2 separate regions of the Homo sapiens genome follow, and region 2 is linked to region 1. A link means that fine-mapping ties the variant in region 1 to the expression of a gene that starts in the linked region. Tissue or cell type: whole blood. Region 1 holds a variant in brackets; the other region holds the start of a gene. All regions are shown on one strand. Distances are between the middles of the regions.

Region 1 (2,500 bases):
GCAGTACTATTCACTACAGCCAAGAGGTGGAAGCAACCCAAGTGTCCCTTGACCGATGAATGGATGAACAAAATGTGGTATATATCCATACAATGGAATATTATTTAGCCTTAAAAAGGAAAGTAGTTCTGATGCACACTACAATGTGGATGAACCTCAAAGACATTATGGTAAGTGAAAAAAGACAAATGTCATAGGATTCCACTTATATGAGCTATCTATGAATAGTCAAATTCATAGAAACACAAAGTAGAATGGTGGTTGCCTACGTCTGAGTTGAGGGGAAAATAGGGAGTTGTTGCTTAATTGGTATAAAGGTTTGCAAGATGAAAATGTTCCGGAGACTGGCTGCACAATAATGTGAATTGTGACAGTACTGAATTACATACTTAAAAATGATTAAGATAGTAAATTTTATATTGTGAATATCTGACCACAATTTTTAAAATGCTAATAAAAACCAAACAAAACCAAAAATAAAAATAAATAAAATGGAGGAGTGTAGGAGGGAGGTGGGTGTAATTATAAAAATTGTTGGCGGGGTGCGGTGGCTCACACCTGTAATCCCAACACTTTGGGAGGCTGAGGCGGGTGGATCATGAGGTCAGGAGATTGAGACCATCCTGACTAACACGGTGAAACCCCGTCTCTATTAAAAATACAAAAAAAAAAAATTGCCAGGCATGGTGGTGGCAGGCGCCTGTAGTCCCAGCTACTTGGGAGGCTGAGGCAGGAGAATGGCATGAACCTGGGAGGCGGAGCTTGCAGTGAGCCGAGATCGCGCCTGTTCCAGCCTGGGCAACAGAGCGAGACTCTGTCTCAAAAAAATAAAAATAAAAAATATATAAAAATTGTTGGAACTGTTCAGCATCTCGACTGCAGTGGTAGATACATGAACCTGCACAGGTGACAAAATTGTATAGAACTAAACATACACACGCACAAATAAGTACAAACAAAACTGGGGAAATAAATTTTAAAAAATAGGTAGCATATGTCAATGTCAACTATAGTTTTGCAAAATGTTAACATTGGGAGAAACTGGACTAAGTCCAGAAGTACCTTCTCAGTATTTCATACAATTCGGTGTGAATCTATAATCATCTCGATAAGAAATA[AAC/A]ACACACACACACACACACACACACAAGGCCTGTTTTTAAAAAACGATATATATGTGTGTGTACTAATATATAAGGCAGTAGAGGTAAATATCCAAACACCAGAGGTTAGGTCATAATAAAAATGATTCTTTTCATGTGCAGGTGACAATATGCACACTCTATAACAAGCAATCCCTCTGGAGAAACTCATCAGCCAAACACACTAATGTGACCTATATGCAAGTAACTCCTATGGCTGACTGCCTTCTAGACACCTCACCCTGATCTTCTCTATAACGGTCTGATCTTTCCAAGAAACCTGCTCTACCCACTGTCTGCCCCAACACAGTTAAGGCCAGACCTTGAGAGGAGAGGCCAACAATCCTTGCACAATGGCCACCCCGCCCCCACGACTTTTCTGACCTCATCTCCTACTAACCCCCACCATCGCTGGTCTTCCTCTTTTCTTGGACTGTACCAGGTGCGCTCCTATCTTGGGCCTTGTACTGACTCTTCCTTGCCTCCTTCAGGTCTTTGCTCAATGTCACCCTCACATTGAGGCCTACTCTAACAACTTTAATTTAAAGGATTATTTCCCCAATGTGGCACAACAAATCCCCTTAGTCCTGATCTATTTATTTCCTCGGGAATTTCTTACATATTAATTTCCTTTATTGTATGTCTGTCTACTCTGCCCACTAGAATGTAAACTCCAGTAAGTAGATCAGCTCTTTTGTCTGTTTTATTCACTAATTCATCCTCAGGACCCAGAGCTGTGGCTTGGCACATAACAGGCACAACAATAAAAACTTGTTGCTGTTGAATGGCTGGAGAAAGCTCATGACAGAAGCACTACATTCAAACACCTTCAGTATCACTGGTGTAACAATCTTTGGAAGGCAGGCTCCTGATCTACTGCTGTGGGGACTCAGATTTCGCCAACTGCCTGCAGGTGGGAAGCACACCCTTGGCTGGTTCACAGCCATCTGCTGCTGTTATCTCTACCACTTTCGACCACAAAAACTTATCCCCATCTTCTTTAGTAAGCATGACACAATGACATCTCATAGGTGTCAGATGCCTAAGAGATTGAAAACATAGCACAGGAAGGAAGCTGTTGCACCATACAACCATTGTGTGTGTGTGTGTGTGTGTGTGTGTGTGCACGCGCCACAAACTAAAGTGGAAAAGTGTCACAGGTATATCATTTAGGAGACCTTAATCACTTCTCCTGAAGCATCTGCCAACATATAATCAACAAAGTTTTGAGATTGGGCGCAGTGGCTCACTCCTGTAATCCCAGCACTTTGGGAGGCCAAGGCAGGCAGATCACTTGCTCTGAGGAATTCGAGACCACTTTAGGCAACATGGTGAACCCCATCTCTACAAATTAAAAACAA
Region 2 (2,500 bases), 29 kb after region 1:
ACCCTAGCAAACAGATTGAACTTCTTTTACCCTCTCTCTTTTTTTTCCCCCCTGAGACAGGTCTCCCTCTGTTATCCAGGCTGGTGTGCAGTGGTGTGACCATAGCTCACTGCAGCTTTGAACTCCTGGGCTTAGGCGATCCTCCCGCCTCACCCTCCCAAGTAGCTGGGACCACAGGTGCACGCCACCACACTTTGCTAACAGACTGATCTTTTAAAGATATAAATCGAATTATGCCTCCCAGCACACTTTAGACTAAACTCTAAACTCCGTATCAAAAGGCCCGCCAGGTCCCTGGTATACCGCTCTCCAACCATCCACCTACCCTCTGCTTCAGGAACCCAGGCCTTATCTGTTTCTCAGCGGTGTCTACCGGGGCTGGATGAAGGCTGGCTCCTGGTCACTCAGGACTCAGCAACATCACCTCCTGCGTAGGCCAGCTGATGACCCTAACACCGGACGGCTGCCCTCTTCCCTCTCTAAACCACTCTACACCCCCTCCTCGCTGGTCTCCTCCTTTGTCTTTCACGCCCTCTGAAAGTCCTGTTGATATGCTAATTTACACAATCTCTCAAAAGAAAGGAAGCGTGAGGAGGATAGGGACCCCGTCAGTCCCCGGCTAGGTCGCGGGGCATGGGGCGTGGAGGGGTGGGGAAAGCTGGGCCCCGCAAGGCGCTCCGAAGCGCCGCCCCGCTCCCTCCCGGCGCACCTGGGCCTCGGCGTTCCGGCGCTCCTCCCAGTCGCGGCAGCTGGCCAGGTCGCGCTGCCACTGTTCGCAGGCCGGCCGCTCGCCGTGGACGTAGTAGTGGTGTAGGAAGTGCCTGGCGCTGCGGCAGAGCTTCCACTCGGCGCGGTAGGCCTCGCAGGGGCGCGGCGGCTGCGGCGAGAGGCGGCGCCTGAGCGGGGCCCGGCGGCCGCGCCCTACGCCCCGAGCCAGTCCCGTTCCCTCCCTCCGGAAGACCCCGGTGGTTCCCGGCTCCGACCCAGCACACTCACCTGCCAGCCGCTGCCGTCCGCCATGTCTGGGCGACCGGCGCGCCAAGCCCGCCCCTCAGTCCGCCAGCCAATGAAAAATGAAGAAAACGGCACCTCGTGATCGACTGACAGAAGAACTAATGAGCACCGACACATTCAATCACGTCTTCGCCCCCTTCTTCGAGAAGCGCCGACAAACAGGACGAGCAACCAATAGCAACCGAGGGCGGCTGCGGCGCGCGCGGAGGGCCGGGGTCGCAGGGTAAATCCGGGGCGAGACCTGGCGCGAAGCCTACGCGACCACCGCGACGACAGCGCCATTCACCCCGGGCCAGGCGGGCATCCTGGGCCGCGCAGCTACCTTACGTCAGCCGCCTCTCAAATCACACGGCTCTGGCCAGTTCTTTTCAGCAGCTTTATGAGATTTTCTCAAATCTCAACAATCCGGTATATTTTCAAAAGTACATACTGAGCATCAAGGTGGTGCAGCGAACCTCCCAGATCTGCAGCTCCAGCAGTCTTGCTTGAGCGTCCACTCAGGATGGAGGTGAACTCGCAAAGTAACTGAGATTGGTTGGGCATGACATATGGTGGATCTAGGGTTGAATGACCTCCCCAGGGAACGCAGGCTTGAAGTGGAGGCTGAGAATGCAATCCGAGTACAGCCATAGGCCGGTCAAAGGTATGGAGGCGGTGTGTAGCAGGGGTGAGCGGGGTAGGAGTGGCTTGGATGTCTGTAGTTCTATTCTAAGGGTGCGGGAGACATGTAACATTTACCTTATTCATTTTTCGAGACAGGGTCTTGCTGTGTCACCCAGGCTTAGTGCAGTGGCGTGGCGTGTTCATGGCTTACTGCAACCTCAAACTCCTGGACTCCGAACAGCTGGGACCAAAAGCATGCACAGCCTCACCAGGCTAATTTTTAATTTTTTTTTTTTTTTTTTGTAAAGATGGGGTCTTGCTAAGTTACCCAGGCTAGTTTGGCCTCAAGCGACCCTCTCACTTTGGCCTCCCAAAGTGCTAGGATTATAGGCGGAGCGCCAGTGCCTGGCTGGGACGTTTATAAAAAGGAGCAATGCACAAGAGGCAACAAAGGCAAGTAAAGAGGAGGCTGGTGGGCTTGCAGAAACGCCCTGCAGTACCTATGCTGCGGTTCTCCCACTTCACTGATAACAAATCCTCAGTATCCACTGATACAAATCCTGGGACTGCTGGGCCAGTCCCAGGAATGACACTGGGACAGACTCCCTGGAGGTGGATCAGAAAGCTGCAGTTTTACCAGGGGTCCTGCTGTTGAGGCAGCCGGCTCAAGGACCAAGCCCAAATAAGACACTGAGAGGAAGGCTGCAGGCCAGGGTGCAGGAGTAATGACCAGGATCAGTGCTCCAACTGGCCCCACTGTGTCATTAAAAGGCTCTGCAATGGAATCCATCCTGGTCCAGGCAGGGGAGTGTGCCTCCAGCAAAGGACCAGGCGTTTCACTGCATACACAGCAGGTGTTGCTTAGTGAAGACAAAAACCCAGA

Evidence for each region. PIP is the estimated chance that this variant, and not a neighbour inherited with it, causes the effect.
Region 2: it holds the start of C22orf39, and the variant in region 1 is fine-mapped to the expression of C22orf39 in whole blood (INTERVAL, PIP above 0.99).

The regions. Positions count from the first base shown.
Region 1 is chr22:19,417,807-19,420,306 of GRCh38, forward strand. All of the region lies in intron 1 of HIRA (histone cell cycle regulator), which reads right to left. Among named protein-coding and RNA genes, the nearest start is that of HIRA, 13 kb to the right of the region's middle. The variant AAC/A (reference allele first, on the strand shown) is at 1,119.
Region 2 is chr22:19,446,669-19,449,168 of GRCh38, forward strand. C22orf39 (chromosome 22 open reading frame 39) reads right to left here and starts at 1,043. Exons shown (of 3, transcript NM_173793.5): 1 at 997-1,043; 2 at 710-877. The coding sequence starts at 1,020. It overlaps UFD1-AS1 (UFD1 antisense RNA 1), which reads left to right and starts at 766. Exons shown (of 2, transcript NR_186687.1): 1 at 766-1,657. RefSeq lists an enhancer at 239-1,141 and a silencer at 589-988.